Regions from separate parts of the Homo sapiens genome. Here region 2 is linked to region 1. Evidence: fine-mapped expression QTL. A gene starts in region 1. The other region holds a variant in brackets. All regions are shown on one strand. Distances are from middle to middle.

Region 1 (5,391 bases):
AGAACTCCTTCTATAACTCATTCGCCAAATAAATAAAAATTGTGTTTTCACCACAAAAATAAACCTTGGAATTTTGAAATGATCGGATTCCTCTATTTCAGCTCTATCAGTGTTTTCTCCTCTACAATAATACATTTCATAATAGGAAATTATAGCTTCATGCTACCATACTCATCCTTAGACATAAAATTATTATCTCTATTATGGTATTCAGGGATATAAAAAGGAGAGTCAAGTAGAGGAATGCTTAATTAATGAACATTCAGTTACTCTTTAAGTATTTCTTACATCATGCATATTATTTGCAGCGCTACATGGTTTGCTCCTAATTTTATTTGTGTACAAGAATCCTATTTGTTTTGACTTCACAATAAAAAAAAAACAAAACAGCATTTTATCCAATAGAAATCATGGCTCATGATACTATTTTCCATTACTAGATTTTAAAATATGTTTTAGAAAGCATCACAGATCCCATACATTTAAAAAGTGGTGAAAGTCTAGTTCAAACATAACTTTTAATTATTAAAAACCCCTAACATTCATTTATTTGAGACACTTTTACTAAACACCCACTATATGAAGAGCAGGTATTAATGAAACAGAAATTAATTCAATTCTGTCTTAATTCCTCATTTAACTTTAAATTAAAACATACTTGAAATGCATAAAAATAATTTCCAAAAGGATTTAAAAGACTGCAATTTAAAAGAATAGGGCAAGGACAATAATTAACAAGCTTTTGTTACATGGTAAAGTTTAATATTATACCACTATTTTAATATTCAACAGTTCATTAACTTGAAGATATATATTCATATTCCTCATCCATCAACTTGCTATACAGTAAAGACTATAAATAACCCAAAACCTTTTAAGTGGAAAAAATGCACAAATACATGTTCTTCCTCAATCTCCCAAAAATAGTTTGAAGAATGTAAAAAAATTTCTGATTTAGTAAAAAATTAATTCAAATAAGCTTCTATAACACTGTCAAGGTGCTGTATAAACCTAGGAGTAAATTTTGTAAGCCATTCTTGATTTTGCTGTTGTGGTTGTTAAGCTGAGTTTTCTTCCTTAACTGCTACCAAATACATAAACAGAAAGAGTCAAACGCTAGTGCTATTTGATGATCAAACAAACACACCAAAGAGGGCAAAAGTTTCAAGGGTAATTCTATTGTTCCTCTAATTGGAGTCACAGAAATACCTTGAGGAGGGTCCAAGGTGAGATGTAGAATGGCGGCACTAGTATTGTTTATATGTGCAATTTATCTTTTAGAGTGTATGGCACCAAAAATGGTTCCCCAGCACCATTTTAGCAAAGCTGCAAGTTCAAACATTTTAACATGCCTGAAAGAATGTGATTCATGCATAACCAACTTTTCCTGCATTTGAGTCATATGTATAAATAACATAAAATATAATTATAAAGTTTTTGATATCCATAATGTTATAAGTGTAAGAATTTAGATAGAATAATTATGTTTTATTTTAGAAATTCCTGTTTGTAAAACTGAAATAACTTTCTCACATGCATTTAAAAATAAAACCATGGCAAACACAATAGAAATGTAATTATAAATTCAAGAGTCTTGTTGCCCCTTTCAAAGTTTAAAGCTTATAAATACAAGACATTTTAAGAAGTAAACAGATGGTTGTTTCTGAAACTTAAGTATTTCATTTTTATGTAAGAACAACAAAAAAAAGTACATTAGAAATGATGTAAGAATTTTATAGAAAATCTTGTCACTGATATTGAACTTAGTCAAAAATAAAACCATACAATGATGAAAGCTGAATGATTCAGCTCAACTTATAATCAAGTTTTTATGGAATTCTTTCAACTTCATCTTGCAAAATGTCCTTGTGAAAATCAGAAAACAACAAACAAAAGAGGGTTCTTTATGTTTGATTGTAAAACTCCAATTACCATTTTAGTTGCTAGTTATAATGTATCATTTAAAAAACAAAACTTACTTGATCTGTCCCATAAGGCAGTATGTTCAGAGAAATGAAGGCTGTCATTTTCCAGAGCTGTTTTCTGATCATGTGCAGTACCTTTAGAGTGTCTATGAAATAACCGGCTAGCAAAACCTTCCAATTTCTGAAGAGCTGTAGTTGTACCTGTATACTGGTTACAAGGTGGTTCTCTATAAGCTGCCATTCATGTGCATTTACACTTTACTTAATGTAACTGCAAATGTTTCCAGAAGGAGCTCACAACTTCTTACACAGAAGCTAAGAGCTATGCATGTGTCAAACTTCCTGTTTGCAGGGTATTCAAACCACTACTGCTGTTCTGTTTCCTGTTAATATAAAACAGCACATTACTGAGCTTTTCTTAGCAAAACACTTTTCAGCTAGAGTTGAGGATTTTAAAAACTTGCAATATCTGCCTAAAAGGCTTTATGTTTGGGTGTTTTAATATTAATATATAGGCTAATGAGAGCATTAAATATAAAGCTTTATATATATAGTAGGCTAAACATTCTTTAAAAAGAAAACTAGTTAAACATGTATGACAAGTCTATGCAAACAACTGAAGGCCAAGCTGTCCTCCAAACACAACATGCTAAAGACAGGTTGTATTTTTTCTAGGAAATCAACTAATATACAGATTTTATGAATCCTTATAAGCAGCTAACTTTTCATAAAAAAAAACTAGTATGAAATGGGTATGAAAAAACTCTTGCAAAACAAATTTATAACACGTATAAATAAAACAATGTGAAATAGCACTTTAAAAAATTGAATGTTTCTAATTCATTGATTTAGGCCTAATACATACAGGAACTACATACACTTAGTATGTCAGTATTGCTTATCAAACTTATAATCTGCTGACATATGTCTATTACCAGGGGTACATTTTAAAACATTCTAAAATTTGAAAAGAACAAAATACAAGATTTAAATTATATAAAATCCACCATAGCAAGAAATTTCAATTGAGAGAAAAAAGTTCCTTCTAGTTGGCTGAGACATGTTAATTTTAAAACCTTACCACTGAAGACTACTACTTACCTAAACCCCTGATTTAGTGATCTCACTTAGAAACACCTCTCTATTTTTTTTTAAACGTTGTTTCACTCTGTCTCCCAGATTGGAGTGCAGTGGTGCGACCTCTGCTCACTGCGACCTCCGCTCCTAGGTTCAAGCGATTCTCGCCCCTCAGACATCCGAGTAGCTGGGATTATAGGCGCGCACCACCATGCCCGGCTAATTTTTGTATTTTCAGTAGAGATGGGGTTTCTCCATGTTGGCCAGGTCAGGAGTTGTCTCAAACTCCTGGCCTCAAGCGATACGCCCGCCTTGGCCTCCCAAAGTGCTGGGATTACAAGTGTGAGCCACCGCGCCTGGCCAAAACATCTCTTTTGATTAAAAGTAAGTAAAACTTGCCTTGTCAATTTTCAGGAAAGAAAGTAACCTGTGGCATTTAACAAAAATTTTGAGTACTTGTTTTTTTGACACTAAAGGATAAGAAATTTCCGTGGTTCTCTTTGGAAGCAGAGGGGAGGGGAGGGAAGGGAAGGAAAGGAAAGAAAGAAAAAGGTCTATCTAAAACAATCTATCTAAAAAAATCTTACTTCAGATTTACTGCCAACTGTTTGACAAACATAAAAAATAGAAACAATACTGATAAGTAAAATAAATAGGAACAATAATGTAATCAAATTAGGACTACATAAAAGGCCAATAAGAAAACACTGATTAGTGAATTTTGCCATTTAACAGTTCATTTGTGTATACTTTGTGTAATGGAATTCATATCAATCTAAACAAGTATGTAACAGTATCTATAAGATAAACTTAAATTTATAGCTTTATGTATAAATATTATGTGTGAATAACAGTTAACAAAACACTGACCAATGAATTTTGCCATGTAACAGCTCATTTCTGTATACTTTGTTTTGTGTAATAAAATTTTTATCAATCTAAACAAATATGCAACAGCATCTATATGACAAAATTCTTAAATTTGTAGCTTTATGTATAAATATTATGTGTGCATAACAATAATTTGTTTCTTAACATCTGGTAGTGCCTTACACAAAACAGACACTTATTAAATGTCTGTAGTCTTCAACAAATATCTACAGAGCATGGACTGATTCTGTAAGGGAAGAAGTGGATAAAATTACTGAATTCCCTTGATTTGCTCTACTGAAGGAAATTCTAATCATCTTCAAGGCTTAGTTCAAATGTCACCTCTTCAGTGAAGTCTGCCACATACTTCCTAGGAAAACAAACTTTGCTGCTTTGTTTTCACTGACCTCATAATATTATGTTAAAAGGTACTGTTTATGAATTTATATGACCCTAAATTGTGAGTTACTTGAATTCATAAATGAAATGCATGTATTACATACTCAATAAACATGTTAAAAGAAAAAAGTATTCACTCATTTTTAACAATTTAAAGGTCTAAGTAGAATCACCGAATACTTGAAAATGTTTGAATTTTATTTATGATGGGACCATATTTATAGATAATCCAAGAAGCACCAAGTTGCTCATATATAGAGACAAGAGTAATAGAACTGTTATCATTGAACTTCTCCTTTTTTCTATTTGTTACTAAATTTTATTCATTCTTTGAATTACATTTTTACTCAGTGCCAATGTGGACTTCTTAACTTCTTGTTTTCCCCGCTTCCAATTACCCCCTTTAATCATTCACCTCTCTGACATATTAACCTCCCCAAAGTATTACACTCATGGTATTCCATTGCCAAATACACAAACTAATCGTAACATTTCAGCTGGACCGTATTCATTTTTAACACATCTAGCCAGATTTTTTATTTATATTCAATGTTGCTCAAGTACAGAAGTTGCAGATTCCTAACTAGAACACTAAGATTACTTTATTTAAAACAATGCATAAGCTTTAAAACAAAATTACTAAAGCAAAAAGAGTAAACTTCACTAGATGAGTATCTTGAAAACACCGTATTTTAAATCTGCACTGTTTTAAAAATAAAATTGTTTCAATTTGTTATCAAGTCCTTCCAGAAAATAGAATATTTAATATTTAAAGCAATGTTTCTATATGTGGTAATGTGACCAGGAAGCTATTGCTATAGAAGTACTTCGGATATTTGATTTTTGATTAAGAAATAAAAATAAAAAGAAGAACTCTACTGGCATCTACTGCTAGAAAGAAACAACTGCAGTTTTAACTAAAACTATGAATTCCTTCATAACTGCAATTAACTTTAAGAAGTATATTGCTTGTTATTCTTCCTAGCGGTGTTTCCACAACTTTAATTCGCACTAAATGTCTCGCCATGCACCGAGAATTTACCAGAATAGCTTATCTTGTAGTTAAATAAGATTTTAAAACTAGAGAGTAATCAACTTCATGAGGTTGATTTTATTCCTC
Region 2 (5,391 bases), 420 kb before region 1:
TATTGTAATCTTATCTTTCCTAAACAGTGTTTATATTAGTCTGTCCTGGGAACTGTTAATATTACACACACAGATGCACATGTGTGCAAAATATACACACGTGTGCCATGGCCAAATATATTTAGAAAAACACTATATACTGTACGCCCCTCTTGGAGATTTGTAACAACAATTATATTAATGGGTTTGAGAAGTGCTGTAATACATAAGGTAGTTTAATTGTTTGACATATAATCTTGTTTCACAGCATTCTTAGAAACATGCAGTTCTTAGAAACTGTTTCATGGATATGGTTTGTTAAAAGTTATGGTAACCAATTACATATACAGGCATACCTTAGAGATATTGCAGAGTCAGTTCTAGACCACCACAATAAAGTAAATATAGCAATAAAGCAAGTGACATGAATTTTTTGTTTCCCTGTGCATATAAAAGTTATGTTTATACTATACTGTAGTCTGTTAAGTGTGTAATAGCATTATGTCTAAAAAAAGTACATACCTTAATTTAAAAATACTTTATTGCTAAAAAAATGATAACGATCATCTGAGCCTTTATCAAGTTATAACCTGCTTGCTGGAAGAGTGTCTTGCCTTGTCATTGATGGCTGCTGACTGATCAGGGTGGTGGTTGCTGAAGGTTGGGGTGGCTATGGCAATTTCTTAAAATAAGACAACAGTGAAGTTTGCCACGTCAATTGACTCTTCCTTTCACGAAAGATTTCTGTGTAAAACGTGATGCTATTTGATTGCATTTTACCCACAGTAGAACTTCTTTCAAAATTGGAGTCAACCCCATCAAACTCTGCTGCTGCTTTATTAATAAGTTTATAGAATATTCTAAATCCTTTGCTGTTATTTGAACAATGTTCACAGCATTTTACCAGGAATAGATTCCATTCTCAAGAAACTACTTTCTTTGCGTATTCATAAGAAGTAGCTCCTCATCTATTCAAATTTTATCACGAGATTGTAGCAATTGAGTCACATATTTAGGATTCACCTCCAATTCTAATTCTCTTGCTGTTTCCACTACCTCTGCAGTTACTTCCTTCACTGAAGTCTTGAACCCCTCAATGTCATCCATGAGGGTTGTAACCCACTTCTTCCAAACTCCTGTTAATGTTGATATTTTGACCTCCTCCCATGCATGAATCATGAATGTTCTTAATGGCATCTAGAATGGTGAATCCTTTCCAAAAAGCTTTCAGTTTACTTTGGCCAGATCCATGAAAGGAGTTACTGTCTTTGGCTGCTACAGCCTTACAAAATCTATTTCTTAATTAATAAGAGTTAAAAGTTGAAATTACTCCTTGTTCCATGGGCTGCAGAATGGATGTTGTGTTAGCAGGCATGAAAATAACATTCATCTTGTGTTCTCCATCAGAGCTCTTGGGTGACCAAGTGCATTGTCAATGAGCAGTAATATTTTGAAAGAAATCTCTTTTTTTTCTTAGTACATCTCAGCAGTGGGCTTAAGATATTCAGTAAACAGATGTGCTGTGAGCCAGGCTTTGTTATTCCATTTATAGATCACAGGCAGAGTCAATTTAGCATAATTCTTAAGTGCCATAGGATTTTTGGAATGGTAAATGAACACTGGCTTCAACTTAAAGTTACCACCCTCATTAGTCCCTAACAAGAGAATCAGCCTGTACTTTGAGCTTTAAAGCCAGGTATTGACTTCTCCTGTCTAGCTAGCAAAGTCTTAAATGGCATCATCTTCTTCCAATATAAGATTTATTTGAAGAAAGGGGTCTCTGCCTTTTAAAATGTGTTTGATCATAATTTTACCCGACATGGGAGGTTTCAGAATGAAAACCCAAAGATACAGGAAAAACTGTCCATTTTTGTGCTTAGGTTCAACGAAGTATGGACAGCTATGTAGAACTGTGATCAGAATAAAGGGCATGAGCTAATGCAAACAGACTGAGTGGGAAAACTCAGCAAGGACTGTCTGTTCAGATTTTTCTTGGCCTCTCTGTGAAGGATTTCTTCTCATGGGTATGGGGTAGGACCTCTCTGGAATGAGGGTCTTAATTTCTTTATGGCCAGCTATTACACAGAAAGGTGGTGGTGGGAAAGGTTAGAGTAACATTTTTAGACTTTATGGCTGGTTTTGGGGAAAAGAGGCTCTAGTTTCTATGACCCATTTTAGGGAAGAGGGATTCTAGTTTCTCTTTCTTTCTTTCTTTCCTTTCTTTCTTTCTTTCTTTCTTTCTTTCTTTCTTTTTTTTTTTTTTTTTGAGACAGAGTCTTGCTCTGTCGCCCAGGCTGTAGTGCAGTGGCGCCCTCTGGGTTCACTGCACCCTCTGCCTCCTGGGTTCAAGCAATTCTACTCCTCAGCTTCCCCCATAGGTGGGATTACAGGTGCCCGCCACTATGCCGGGCTAATTTTTATATTTTTAGTAGAGATGGGGTTTCACTATGTAGGCCAGTCTGGTCTCAAACTCCTGACCTCAAGTGATCCGCCTACCTTGGCCTCCCAAAGGCCTGGGATTACACGCATGGGCCACTGCACCTGGCCAACACATTGTTTAAGCTCTTAGAATTCAG[G/A]AAACATTTTGGTGAGCCTTGAAGGCCATTTAATGTCACTTCAGAAAACAATCTAATTATAACTATTTTCTTCCTCTTTTTTATTCATTGCAAAATTCCCATTGTAAGGTTATTAGTCTAATTTCAATATCGTTATTAAGTCTTTTTTTTCTGAGATGGAGTATCGCTCCGTCACCCAGGCTGGAGTGCAGTGGCACAATCTCAGTTCACTGCAACCTCTGCCTCCTAGGTGTAAGTGAGTCTCGTGCCTTAGCCTCCCAAATATCTGGGGTTATAGGGATGCCCTACCATGCCCGGCTAATTTTTTGTATTTTTAGTAGAGATGTGGTTTCACCATGTTGGCCAGGCTGGTTTGAAACTCCTGACTTCAAGTGATCCTCCCATCTCGGCCTTCCAAAGTGTTGGCATTACAGGCGTGAGCTACCGCGCCTAGCCAAATATTGTTATTAAGTCTTATATGGGCAGTTCATGGTGCCCACAAACAATTACAATAGTAGCATCAAAGACCACTGATTGCAGATCATCATAACAGATATAATAATAATAATGAAAAAGTTTGGAATATTTTAAGAATTGCCAAAATGTGACACAGACACAAAATGAGCACTTGCTGTTGGAAAAATGGCACCAGTAGACTTGTTCAATAGAGTTGCCATAAACCTTCAATTTGCAAAAAATTTAATGTCTGCAAAGCACAATAAAGCAAAGTACAATAAAATGAGGTATGCCTGTAATTTAAAAATATGTAACATAGAATCTTAGGACAGTATATACTACCATATACTGTTTCTTTGTAATCCTGACCTTAGTAATCTGTGGCTTGTTTTTTCCTTAATGAATGTGAAAATGCAGGAACACATTCTTCTTTTTTTTTAGACGAGGTTTTGCTCTGTCACCCAGGATGGAGTGCAGTGGCACAATCATGGCTCACTGCAGCCTTGACCTCTTGGGCTCAAGCAATCCTCCTGCCTCAGCCTACCAAGTAGCTAGGACCATAGGCGTGTGCCATCATGCCAGGCTGATTTTTTTACTTTTTGTAGAGACGGGGTCTTTCTATATTGCCCAGGCTGGTCTTGAACTCCTGGCCTCAAGTGATTCTCCCACCTTGGCCTCCCAAAATGCTGGGATTACAGGTGTGAGCCACTGCACTTGGCCTCTTTTTTTTTTTTAATTAAAAAAAAGTGGCCGGGCGCGGTGGCTCACGCCTGTAATCCCAGCACTTTGGGAGGCTGAGGCGGGCGGATCACGAGGTCAGGAGATCGAGACCATCCCGGCTAAAACGGTGAAACCCCGTCTCTACTAAAAATACAAAAAAAATTAGCCGGGCGTAGTGGCGGGCGCCTGTAGTCCCAGCTACTTGGGAGGCTGAGGCAGGAGAATGGCGTGAACCCGGGAGGCGGAGCTTGCAGTGAGCCGAGATCCCGCCACTGCACTCCAGCCTGGGCGACAGAGCGAGACTCCGTCTCAAAAAAAAAAAAAAGTTTAATGGCAGGCAAAAATTATCTGTATTTATGGTGTAGAAGATGATGTTTTGATATATCTATACATTGTGAAATGGCTAAATCAAGTTATTTAACATATGTATTACCTCACATACCATTTTTTAAATGGTAAGAACACTTAAAATCCATTCTCTTAGGAATTTTCAACATAATACATTGTTATTAACTATAGTTACCACGGGATACAGTAGATTTCTTGTATTTATTGTTCCTAATTGAAAATTTGTGTCTTGAAATATCTATTCTTCCCACCCCCAGCCTCTGGTAACCACCTTTTTACTCTGTTTCTATGAAGAAACACATTCTTTAGGTCTCAGAATTCAGGAAACATTTTGGTGCGCATTGAAGGCCATTTAATGCCACTTTAGAAAAAAATCTAGTTATAACTGTTTCCTTCCTCTTTTTTTTTTTTTTGAGATGGAGTCTCACTATGTCGCCCACGCTGGTGTGCAGTGGCGCGATCTTGGCTCACTGCAAGCTCCGCCTCCCGGGTTCACGCCATTCTCCTGCCTTAGCCTCCCAAGTAGCTGGGACTACAGGTGCCCGCCACCAAGCCTGGCTAATTTTTTTGTATTTTTTTAATAGAGACGGGGTTTCACTGTGTTAGCCAGGATGGTCTCGATCTCCTGACCTCATGATCTGCCCATCTCGGCCTCCCAAAGGGCTGGGATTATAGGTGTGAGCCACCGCGCCCAGCCTCCTTCTTTTTTTTTTTTTCTTTTTTTTTTTTTTTTTTTTGAGATGGAGTTTTGTTCTTTTCGCCCAGGCTGGAGTGCAGTGGCACGATCTCGGCTGACTGCGCCCTCCGCCTCCCAGGTTCAAGCAATTCTCCTGCCTCAGCGTCCTGAGTAGCTGGGATTACAGGCATGCATCACCACACCCAGCTAATTTTTGTATTTGTAGTAGAGGCAGGGTTTCACCATGTTGGCCAGGCTGGTCTTGAACTCCTGACCTCAGGTGATTCACCCATCTTGGCCTCCCAAAATGCTGGGATTACAGGCGTAAGCCATCGCGCCTGGCCCCCTCTTTTTTATTAATTGCAAAATTCTGTAGCAACATGAATCAAGTTTCTGTCTTATTTGAAGAGAATCACTCTATTGGGCTGTTTCAGCAATAGCAGCTCATCTTGGACTCAATATTCTGGAAAGCAAATATGCCTTAACCATGCATAAATTAGTCTTACATGTGCTTAGTTTTTGCCCTTTGTTCCTTTACAATTTTGAGACATTTGAATTTCTTAATAATATCAAAAAGGCTCAAAGTACTAGCTAGAATGATGGCAAAATTCAAAGGTATATGTCTTTGGGTTTGCCCCTGAATCTTCAATAATCTGT

Alleles and levels. Positions count from the first base shown, and alleles are read on the strand shown. Sizes are in standard deviations (SD) of each study's normalised expression.
In carriers of allele A in region 2, the expression in lymphoblastoid cells of the gene that starts at base 2,257 in region 1 tends to be lower than with G alone (large effect, 1.0 SD a copy in GTEx).

What was found. PIP is the estimated chance that this variant, and not a neighbour inherited with it, causes the effect. A credible set is the group of variants that fine-mapping cannot tell apart.
Region 2: its variant is the best candidate, but not a certain one, in a credible set for the expression of PRKACB in lymphoblastoid cells (GTEx, PIP 0.76).

Annotation. Positions count from the first base shown.
Region 1 is chr1:84,141,137-84,146,527 of GRCh38, reverse strand. PRKACB (protein kinase cAMP-activated catalytic subunit beta) reads right to left here and starts at 2,257. Exons shown (of 10, transcript NM_182948.4): 1 at 1,980-2,257. The coding sequence starts at 2,166. RefSeq lists a silencer at 2,189-2,238.
Region 2 is chr1:84,556,938-84,562,328 of GRCh38, reverse strand. All of the region lies in intron 13 of SPATA1 (spermatogenesis associated 1), which reads right to left. The region is part of intron 6 of CTBS (chitobiase); the gene reads left to right. Among named protein-coding and RNA genes, the nearest start is that of CTBS, 15 kb to the left of the region's middle. The variant G/A (reference allele first, on the strand shown) is at 2,556.